3 linked regions of the Homo sapiens genome follow. The main gene of each other region encodes a partner of the protein of the gene in region 3 in a complex. Each region holds a gene or a part of one and is shown on either strand. Other genes may lie near its edges. The genes, in order: MED25, MED18 and MED21.

Evidence for each region.
Region 1: MED21 (region 3) and MED25 share a complex: the UniProt entries of both Homo sapiens proteins name them as parts of the mediator complex.
Region 2: MED21 (region 3) and MED18 share a complex: the UniProt entries of both Homo sapiens proteins name them as parts of the mediator complex.

Annotation. Positions count from the first base shown.
Region 1 is NC_000019.10:49,828,166-49,831,912, reverse strand, and holds part of MED25 (mediator of RNA polymerase II transcription subunit 25), read right to left. Parts: intron 3,465-3,747; coding exon 3,366-3,464; intron 2,944-3,365; coding exon 2,823-2,943; intron 2,128-2,822; coding exon 1,965-2,127; intron 1,826-1,964; coding exon 1,695-1,825; intron 1,403-1,694; coding exon 1,315-1,402; intron 1,220-1,314; coding exon 1,026-1,219; intron 581-1,025; coding exon 452-580; intron 1-451. UniProt on the Homo sapiens protein: Component of the Mediator complex, a coactivator involved in the regulated transcription of nearly all RNA polymerase II-dependent genes.
Region 2 is NC_000001.11:28,327,257-28,331,003, reverse strand, and holds the start of MED18 (mediator of RNA polymerase II transcription subunit 18), read right to left. Parts: upstream 1,965-3,747; 5' UTR 1,824-1,964; intron 719-1,823; exon of another isoform or gene 629-718; intron 408-628; 5' UTR 342-407; coding exon 269-341; intron 1-268. UniProt on the Homo sapiens protein: Component of the Mediator complex, a coactivator involved in the regulated transcription of nearly all RNA polymerase II-dependent genes.
Region 3 is NC_000012.12:27,025,450-27,029,196, forward strand, and holds part of MED21 (mediator of RNA polymerase II transcription subunit 21), read left to right. Parts: intron 1-970; coding exon 971-1,085; intron 1,086-1,897; coding exon 1,898-1,998; intron 1,999-2,835; coding exon 2,836-3,012; 3' UTR 3,013-3,747. UniProt on the Homo sapiens protein: Component of the Mediator complex, a coactivator involved in the regulated transcription of nearly all RNA polymerase II-dependent genes.

The sequences.
Region 1 (3,747 bases), on a different chromosome or scaffold from region 3:
CAGTAAAAAGGGCCATAAGCCTCAGTCCCCTTGAGCCCTCATGTCCTACCCTGGTAGCCCCAAAGCTCAGGATGTTCCCCAGTTTAAGTCCCATGAGCCCCAGGCCCCTCCTCCAGACCAGCAAGCCTTCAGTTCCTCAAATGTTACAGCTACGTGCCCGGCCCCTAAATCCCACCATCCACTGTGCCCCAGATGATACATCGCCTGGGCTCTTCTCTGGGCCCCAAATCCTGGGCTTTTCTGGGTTCTTTGCATGGGGACTCTCCTCTGTACCGCAAGTCCCACCACTCCATGGGGCTCCTGGCCTCGCCCCGCATCCCACAGGTCCAGCGCAACGAATGCCTCCAAACCCAGCACTGCAGACCCCACGCATCTGGCCCCATGAGTCCTACATGCCCAGCCCCACGGCCCCAGGAGTCCCAAGTGCCCAATGGACCCTCAGGCCCCTCACCTCTTGCCACTCCAGGACCCCGCTCCAGGCCAGAAGCTTATTGGAGACTGACTGCTGCCCACCGAGGGCTGGGGCTCCCAGCTGGGCTGGGGAAGGGCCGCTCACCCCTCCTGGGGCCACAGTGCCTGCCTGCCAGAGGGGAGGAAGGAGGGCCATGAGAATGGGGAAGGCCGGGAGCCTCCGGGGGCCATCCTGTGAGGGCAAACCAGGAAGGAGGAAAGATCCCTTCTTCTGCCCCTCCATCCCCAGAACAGCACTTGGCCAGCCGCAGGACCCCAAATGCTTGGACCTTGCAGGATTCGAGGACTCGTAAGCTGTGCGATGCCCTGGACTCCCAGACCCAGGGATTCCTTGGGTTTCTCGGAACAGCCCTGACCCTCCTGGAGCCATGAGCCTCCCCACTCTGTCCCCAGACCCTCATCTCAGGCATCTGCAGCACACACACCACGAGCCCCCAAAGCCCCAGAACCACGAGAGCCACATCCCCCTGGAAGGCAAATGACTCATCCTCTAACTGTCCTAGCTGTGGACAGCAGGAGGAAGGAGCAGGGGCAGGAGGCGTGCAGGCACCTACCATGGACGGTGCCCCGGGCTGTGCCGTGGGAGCCAGGCCGGAGCCAGGGGCCACAGTGGAGACCAGACTGGGCTGGGAAGCAGGTGGTGGCTTGGGGGCGCCAGGGGGTCCTGGGGGTAGTTGGGGAGCTGGGGCCTGGCTGAAGGGGGGACCCACTCCGGGAGCAGCTTGTTGGAGAGGGGTGATGGGCGAGACTGTGGGAGAGACCAAGGGAAGAAGTGGGGAACAAGTGTGTGGAGAGAGGCCTGCCTGGCCCCTGCCCGCCCTTCATCCTCACTCCAGGACTCACAGCGAGGGCCCAGCCCAGCCTTCTGGTTCTTGGCAGCCTCCACTGCATTCTGCGCGGCCACCTGAGCTGCACTCAGGTTCCCGGGAACCTGTGGGTAGAAGGGAAGAAGGGAAGGGACTGGTGAGGACCATGGCCCCCCAGTCCTGGTATCCCACGAGGTCACACCACCCATGGCCCCATGAGGCACCAGCTGGGATAGCTTAGCTCACAACACCCATCACACAGCACATGAGCTTCCATGGCCCCAAGAGTCCCACCTTCCCAATGTCCCATGGGACTCCCATCATCCCACAAGCTCCAACATGCAACTAGATTTCTCCCCAGGGGCCAGGGCTCCAGCAAGTCCCCAGAAGCATGTCCCTTCCCGGAAATATCCATACCTGGTACTGCGGGGGGACGGGGGGCAGAGGCTGCTGGGGGGCTGCTGAGAGAGTGGCACCTGAGGGTGCGGCGGGAGGCAGGGGGACTGGCTGCTTTGACTGGAGGGGGCCTGGGGCTGAGCCACCCCCAACTGAGAGCAGGAGGGATGGCCAACCCCAGAGAGAAGGGATTCAAGATGCAGAGAAAGGAGAGAAATCCAAAATCCAAGTCAGAGGGAGCTGGGGAAACACGTCGAGCCCCCATCCCCGCGCACGGTGCCCAGGCCTCACCAGGCAGCACGAGTCCCCGAACCAGCACCATGTGCCTCGGGTCCTGGCTCACATCTGTCGGAGGCTGCAGCGGCTCCAGCAAGGCCGGGGGGGCTGCCTTCTCAAACAGAAGCCGAAGCGCAGGCAGCTTCCGGGGAGACACAATGGAGAAGTGGATCCCCCGCTGTAGGAGAGGGGCCGAGCAGTCATGACGGGCCCCCTCCATAAGGGTGTTGGGGCCGGCCCCCAACCTACCACAACTGCTGTGTGGCTGGACGGCACCAGCCCTACAACCACAATTCCCATTGGGCTTTGAGGCAGGAGACCCTGAAACCAGGTATCACCTGCCCCGGGAGACTCTGGGTTCTAGTTTTGTCAGTAAGACTAAGTGGGCCAGGTGTGGAGGCTCACGTCTGTAATCCCAGGATTTTGTGAGACCGAGTCAGGCAGATCACATGAGGCCAGGAGTTTGAGAGCAGTCTGGCCAACATGGTGAAACCTCATCTCTACTAAAGATACAAAAATCAGCTGGGCGTGGTGGCGGGCGTCTATAATCCCAGCTACTCGGGAGGCTGAAACATGAGAATTGCTTGAACCCTGGAGGCAGAGGCTGCAGTGGGCCAAGATCACACCACTGCACTCCAGCCTGGGTAACAGAGCCAGACTGTTTCGAAAAGAGAGTAAGCAAAGCTGGTCACCAGTCTGTGACTATTCTGTGTCTGAGTCCAGGCCCCCAGTGCCTCCCCGCTTAGACCCAAGAGTCCAGGCCCCCAGTGCCTCCTCCCTCAGACCCAGGAGTCCAGGCCCTCAGTGCCTCCTGCCTCAGACCCAAGACTCCGGGCCCCCAGACCCTCGTCCCTCAGACCCTGGAGTCCTCACCTCCCCAATCTGCTGCACAAGATTCTCAGTTGTGCATCCAGAGTACGTGGTGCTCTCAACAGCAGGCAACAAGTATGGGGGTGAGTTGCAGATGAGGAGGCAGACCCGGTGCGTCTGGCCACTACCAGGAAAGAGAGAAGACATGGAGCCAGCAGCAACAGAGGCCCTGAGAAGGAACCCAGACCCAGCACCAGCGGAGATGCACATATTCCGCCTCACATGGAATCAGAAGCAACGCCCCTACTTTACAGCTGAGAACACTGAGGCTCCAAGAGGTTCTGGGATGTGCTCTACGTCACCCAGCAGGCAGGGCAGGCAGGAGTGACACCCAGAGTTGGCACTGCTTCCTGATGGGGATGCTGAGACCGGGCACTGGCCAGGCGTCCCCCAAGGACACACCTGCAGCCTCCTGGCTCAGCGTGCTTGGGGACACAGAGCCCATGCCCTACAGGGTGAGGCTGGAGGTAGAACCACTCGACAGGCAAAGTGGTTCCAGGCCAGGCAGAGAGAGACCGGCCCGGCCTGGGTGGAGGGGGCACTCACATCTGCTCGCGCATCTTCTTGAAGTCATCAAACAGCTGCAAGGCTGTGCTGAGTCCTTCCGCGATGAGGCTGCAGCTCTCACCACCCCCGCCCATGAACCTGCAGGGGCAGAGCGGTCAGCCCCCAGGGTTGCCATCATCCCCATCCCCAGGCTATGCTTGAAGAGCCTGCTCCCATGCTGTCCCCCACTCTATCCTGGGCTATGCACCTTGGGATGACGGGGACCCTGCTGAGTTCCCTACCCAATCCCTGGTGCTAGCACAGCACCAGTCCCAGACAGGACAGGGGACATTTGCTGTCTGTGTTTTTTTTTTTTTTTGAGATGGAGTCTCGCTCTGTCGCCCAGGCTGGAATGCAGTGGCATGATCTCAGTTCACTGCAA
Region 2 (3,747 bases), on a different chromosome or scaffold from region 3:
AGCCAGGATGGTCTCCATCTCCTGACCTCGTGATCCGCCCACCTCGGCCTCCCAAAGTGCTGGGATTATACGCGTGAGCCACCATGCCCAGCCAAGATGGCAAATTTAGTATGTTTAGTGCATATAAAACTATAATTTAAAGTAACAGTTAAAAACATAGCTGGGTGCCAGAAACTGTGCAGGCTGCTTTTGTGTTAAGTCTCTCATCTTAAGGGAAGCTGAACAGAGAAGAGGAAAACAGGTAATCCAAGTTCCCTAGTTCACTTACCCTGCAACAGGTACTCCATCATGTTAATGGTGCCCCCAGTGACAGGCATCATGGTGACTGGAGGTGCCTCCATGGTGTCTAAGTTGAAGACAACACAACTGGACTCAGAGCCCCCAGTCAGGTAAGGCACGGGATATACCTGGAAAAGAGTTCACTTGTTTATACATCAAAGTGGTGGAGAGAGACCAGATCTGTTGTGGCACTGGCCTTCAAATCAAAGATTCATTCATTCAAAAACGTTTGAGTATTTCCTTATATGGCCAGTTCCAGGAACTGATGACACAGAAATATAGAAAGGAGATCTGGTCATGGAGTTACAGCATTACCTTCTAGTCTCAAGTTCTGAAACCTCCACATTACCTGTGCAATCTTGAGAAAGTCCTATCTATAACCCCTCACCCTGGGACTCAATGTCTTCCTTATAAAATGAGGCCAGTGATTTTTTTTTTTTTTTTTTTTTGAGACGGAGTTTCACTCTTGTCGCCCAGGCTGGAGTGCAATGGCGCAATCTCTGTTCACTGCAGCCTCTGCCTCCCAGGTTCAAGCGATTCTCCTGTCTCAGCCTCCCGAGTAGCTGGGATTACAGGCGCCCGCAACCAAGCCCAGCTAATTTTTTTTGTATTTTTAGTAGAGACGGGGTTTCGTCATGTTGGCCAGGTTGGCCTCGAACTCCTGGCCTCAGGTGATACTCAGGTGATCCGGCCTCCCAAAGTGCTGGCATTACAGGTGTGAGCCACCGTGCCCGGCCAAAGGCCAGTGATTTTTAACTCCCAAGGCTATGTGGCTCAAACGAGATAATAAAGAGGCAACAAAATTCAGAAGAACTGAAAAAGTGACTTAAGGGACCTTCGTTTTATAGATGAGGATATTGAGACTTGGAGAGGGACAGAAGGATACACACAGCAAGTTGGTAGCAGAGTTTGGACCAAACTAACATCTAGGCGTTCTATCTCTCTGAAAATGCCTTCCCCCGTACGCTTTTCTTTTTTGGTGACAGGATCTCGCTCTGTAGCCCAGGCTGCAGTGCAGTGGGGAGTTCCTAGCTCACTATAACCTCGAACTCCTGGGCTCAAGCCGAGTAGCTGGGACTACTACAGGCGGGAGACCACACTGCGGCTAGCCTAAAAATGCCTTTTAAAGAGAGCCAAGGCCGGGCGCGGTGGCTCACGCCTGTAATCTCAGTACTTTGGGAGGCCGAGGCCGGCGGATCAACTGGAGGTTGGGAGTTCGAGACCAGCCTGACCAACATGAAGAAACCCCGACTCTACTAAAAATACAAAAAATTAGCCAGGCCTGGTGGCGAGCGCCTGTAATCCCAGCTCCTCAGGAGGCTGAGGCAGGAGAATCGCTTGAACCCGGAAGGCGAGGTTGCGGTGAGCCGAGATCGCGCCATTGCACTCCAGCCTGGGCAACAAGAGCGAAACTCCGTCTCAAAAAAAAAAAAAAAAAAAAAAAGAGAGAGAGAGCCAAGGGGAAGTTATTTTAAGATGATGGTATATAGGTCCTTCTAAGCCGGCATCCATAACACGTATCCAATTAAACACTAGAAGCACACCTCCTTGAGGCTGTAGTGTCTTCTCGAGAAGCCGGGAATTATATCCACCCGCGCACCTAGGAGCTTTTGAGCGACGATTAGATACCAGCACTCCGGTTACCCGAGCCCGGGAAGCCCCCAGATCGGTGCAACCAGCCAACTTCCTCCTCTTCTCACTTCCGGTCGGAAGCCGACGTCTCACAAACCTCGAAACTGCCGTTCCCAAACGTATGGGTGCCGAGAAGGCCGAAGAGCTTCATTGCGGACAGACAATCAGAGGCGCATGCGCAAAATTCCGGGCTGCTGTATGAAAGATGGCGGCCTCCTTTGGCGCTTTCCTCCGGGCGCTACCTGGATCCTTGACGTCATAGGCCATGCTCTAGGAAAATCTTTTTAGGTTTGACAACCTGGAGATGTATTTGTGTAGAAAGTCTCTTGGAACTGATAGGACTTACAGAGATTATAGTGGGTTTCAAAAGAAAAAAGAACTGAGGGGTTGGGCGCGGTGGCTCACGCCTGTAACCCCAGCACTTTGGGAGGCCGAGGCAGGCGGATCACTTGAGGTCAGGAGTTCGAGACCAGCCTGGCCAAGATGGTAAAACTCCGTCTCCATTAAAAATACAAAAATTAGCCGGGCATGGTGACGCGCGCCTGTAATCCCAGCTACTAGGGAGGCTGAGGTGGGAGAATCGCTTGAACGCGGGAGGCGGAAGTTGCAGCGAACCGAGATCGCGCCACTGCATTGTAGCCTGGGCTACAGAGAGAGACTCTGTCTCAAAAAAAAAAAAGAGTCTGGAAAAGGAGTAGGTCCAGATCCAGGAGTACTCTGCAGTGCCATACCAAAGAATACATGTGAGCTTTAAAAGAACCCTGGCTACAACATGGAGAAAAGTTTGGGAAAGGAGAGAGCCTAGAGAAAAAAGACCAGGCCGGACACGGTGGCTCAGGCCTGTAATCCCAGCACTTTGGGAGGCCAAGGCGGGCAGATGGCTTGAGTTCAGGAATTCAAGACCAGCCTGAACAACATGGTGAAACCCTGTGTCTACAAAAAATACAAAAAATTAGCTGAACGTAGTGGCTCGCACCTGCAGTCCCAGCTACTTGGGAGGCTGAGGTGGGAGGATTGCTTGAGTCCAGGAGGCAGAGGTTGCAGTGAGCTGAGATAGCGCCACTGCACTCCAGCCTGTGCAACAGAGGGAGATCCTGTCTGGAAAAAAATTAAAGAAAAACGACCAGTTAGGCGCTTTGGTACAACTCCAGCTGAGAAACAAATGTCAGAAAAAGATTTTAAAAATGTAAAAAGAGGACAGGCGCGGTGGCTCACGCCTGTAATCCCAGCACTTTGGGAGGCCGAGGGGGGTGGATCACGAGGTCAGGAGATCGAGACCATCCTGGCTAACGGTGAAACCCTGTCTCTACTAAAAATACAGAAAATTAGCTGGGCGTAGTGGCGGGCGCCTGTAGTCCCAGCTACTTGGGAGGCTGAGTCAGGAGAATGGTGTGAACCTGGGAGACAGAGCTGGCAGTGAGCCGAGATCGCACCACTGCACTTTAGCCTGGGCGACAGAGCAAGACTCCGGCTCAAAAAAAAAAGTAAAAAGAGGAAATTAGCCGGGTGTGGTGGCACACGCCTGTAGTCCCAGCTACTCAGGTGGCTCAGGTGGTCAAGAGACCAAAATTGCTTGAACCCAGGAGGCAGAGGTTGTAGTGAGCTGAAATTGCACCACTGCTCTCCAGCCTGGGCTACAGAGCAAGACTCTGTCCTCTATATATATATGGAAAATAATTCTTTAATGACTAACCAGAGGTAAAGACAGAGATGAAGGAGTCACAGATGTCTTGGGTGGCTATCGTAGCACTTTTTTTCTCTAAGCTAGGAAACACAGAGCAGTGTGGGTGAGACAGGAAAGATGAGTTCATATGTAGACCCACTGAGCATCAGGTG
Region 3 (3,747 bases):
ATCAGGTTAAAATAAATAACCTGGTGAACTGGAAAACAACAAGAAGACTATTGTAATAATTCTGGTGTGAGATAATTGGTTGAACTAAGCAACAGTGATAGAAGGAAAAGAGAAAGATTTGTAGTATTAGCAGAATATGAAGATCAAAGGAAAGTAAGAATCTGAAGTTAGATTGGTTGACTAGGAGACTTTCAATACAAATTAAATATTAAAAAGAGGAAACAGTTGCCTTTGAGTTCTGTCATTGAAACAATGGCAGAGAAACCCAGTGGAAATACTTATTAGAAATAGGAGGTTTGAGAGGTCAAGACTAGGTGAGAGAAATTGGTAGGGAAGATAGGTGTATTTAATTTGGAGATGGTAAGGAATTGCTATTCCCAATCTTTAAAAGTACTTAAGGAATACTTTTAGAGTACAAGAGTTTACAAATTGAGTCTTGAACAAATACATTTCTGCTTACTTAAGGTGCTTTTCTGAGCAGCCTCTTCCTCACTATTTCTTTACACTTGTAACTACTCCAGTCTCAGAAAAGGAATCATATACTTTGTGCATGAGAAATAAATTTTTATTAAACATGGTGCCATAGATATTTACAAGTCAAATTTGCTCTTTTCCATCACTATCCCCAAAAAGTCTTTACTTGTGGCTTACAATAAGTATTGGCCAATATTCTCTTATCATTTTACTATCACAAGAAAAGAAAGATTATTTTGTATTTCAACTGTTTCAACTAGATTTATATCAAATTTAACTTTACCTAGATTGATACCAAACTTAGTTTCTTTGCAGAATTAAAACGTTTAATCAACATTAATAATAACTGGCTTATTTTATCAACAATCACTCCTTTCTGTTTTATTCCCTTGCTCAGAGATTATCATTACAGAAACTTATTGTTGTTGCCATTACCAATAAAGTCCTTAAAACTGATAAGTCCTTTCTAACCTTGATATGTTTTCTTTGGCCTAAGCTTGCAGATCAGTTTTGTAATGCCATTGGAGTATTGCAGCAATGTGGTCCTCCTGCCTCTTTCAATAATATTCAGACAGCAATTAACAAAGACCAGCCAGCTAACCCTACAGAAGGTAAACAGGTTTTCTTAGCTTCTCTTAGTTTGACTCTCACATTTTTTGTAATCCTTTAAAATTAGATTTCTTGAGAAATTCAGCTTATTTTATTTCTAAAATTATTGTTGTTTGAGAATATTACAAGTTTTGTTTGTTGTAAAAAATTTACAGTCAATTCACCTAACATCTCATAATTCTGGTTCATGTCAGATAATAGATTGTTACTCCTTTAGAGGAGAATTTGTATTAATTTAGCTGAGTGAGGGACCTTAACAAGGAAGGCATCCCATTTATAAATTTCTTTATTCAGGTGACCACTATATTGTCATAATAAATGAAATTACATACATTATGCTTAATTCCCAATTTGAGCTAAATGTGTAACAGGATTGGTGTATATTTTAATCATTAGAATCTTCTTTTTTTTTTTGAGACGGAGTCTCGCTCTGTCACCTAGGCTGGAGTGCAGTGATGCAATCTTGGCTCACTGCAACTTTCGCCTCCCGGGTTCAAGGAATTCTCCTGCCTCAGCCTCCTGAGTAGCTGGGATTACAGGCTCATGCCACCACGTCTGGCTAATTTTTGTATTTTTAGTAGAGATGGGGTTTCACCATGTTGGTCAGGCTGGTCTCAAACTCCTGACCTCGTGATCCGCCTGCCTTGGCCTCCCAAAGTGCTGGGATTACAGGCGTGAGCCACCACGCCTGGCCGAATCATTAGAATCTTAGGGCAGAAAAAGCTATATGAAGTTTCTGGTTTCATTAACTTAAAATTTGTTTCTGAAAACTTGAGGTTTTCTAATATCCTAATCTAGCAGTATCTTTCTCTAGAGTATGCCCAGCTTTTTGCAGCACTGATTGCACGAACAGCAAAAGACATTGATGTTTTGATAGATTCCTTACCCAGTGAAGAATCTACAGCTGCTTTACAGGTAAGCCTCTATTCCTTTGAGAATTTTACCAGTAATAGAGAATTTTGAATTAAAGGAGGTAGATTTAGTACCTTTTGTCTGTGTCCATTTGTGCTGCTATAACAACATACCTGAGACAGTAATTTATAAAGAACAGAAATTTATTTTCTCACAGTTCTGGAGTCTGGGAAGTCCAAGATCAAGGCATTTATTACTCACTGTGCATGAGTAATGAATTTTTATTAAACATGGTGCCATGTTTAGGGCCATGTTGAGGGCCTTCTTCCTGTTTCCTCACATGGCTGAAGGCAGAAGGGCAAAAGAGCAAGAGCTCCCTCTTCAACCTCAAGCCATATTTTAAGGGTACTAATTCCATCTATGAGATCTCTGCCTTCATGACTTAATATCCTCTTAAAGGCCCCTTCCCTCTTAATACCATCACATTGGGGATTAGATTTTAATGTATGAATTTTGGAGGGGATGCATTCAAATCATAGCACCTTTTGTTATAATATTCAAATTTCCATTATAAGGAAACCTCTTATTTTCCTCAATTTTGTCTCTTTTCCTAGTGAAGAATGAGAGGAGGGTGGCATTCTACAATTGGAGTAGAATAATGGTGTCTAAACGTAATGTGTAAGGGAGTCACTTAAAGATATCTAGAGATCTCTAATTGAAAAGTCATTCTTTTTAATAATTCACATGGGGAAAATTCTTAAAAGTTGTCTGATTTTTAGAATTTCTTTACTGAAAAACATATCACAATGATTGCAAAGTCATCCAGATTTAAAAATAAGTACATCTGTGACAGCTTCTCTTTCTAAACTCTAAAGATTTTAAAATTTGTGTCTTATAAAGGCTGCTAGCTTGTATAAGCTAGAAGAAGAAAACCATGAAGCTGCTACATGTCTGGAGGATGTTGTTTATCGAGGAGACATGCTTCTGGAGAAGATACAAAGCGCACTTGCTGATATTGCACAGTCACAGCTGAAGACAAGAAGTGGTACCCATAGCCAGTCTCTTCCAGACTCATAGCATCAGTGGATACCATGTGGCTGAGAAAAGAACTGTTTGAGTGCCATTAAGAATTCTGCATCAGACTTAGATACAAGCCTTACCAACAATTACAGAAACATTAAACACTATGACACATTACCTTTTTAGCTATTTTTAATAGTCTTCTATTTTCACTCTTGATAAGCTTATAAAATCATGATTGAATCAGCTTTAAAGCATCATACCATCATTTTTTAACTGAGTGAAATTATTAAGGCATGTAATACATTAATGAACATAATATAAGGAAACATATGTAAAATTCTGTTATGACATAATTTATGTCTCCATTTTGTTGTATTGGCCAGTACTTTTACAAATCAAAACATCTCTCAAGCCAAAGGAGAAGACAGTAAGAACAGACATAAGGGACATTTTAGTTTGGGCTAGTGTCCTGCCTCTTAGAGGTGGCATTGTGTAAATCTGAGCTTTGAGCAAGAAAGTTTTGGAAATTGTGTTGCTTTTAAGAAATAGAGTTAGTGTGGCTGGATAAGAAAGTCACATTTATGCAAATGTTTCTTCTGCTAGAACCTCATACCTGTTCTAGTTCATCTCCACGTTTATTTTACCAAGAGATCCTCTGTCAAGAGAATTTCCTGGCTGTTGTGAAAGAATTTTTCTACATCCTGAACTATTTTTCCTATTTCTTTTCACCTTGCTTTTTTTCATCCTTAATTTGCTTGTCATCACAATGAAGTATGTTTTTTGAATCAT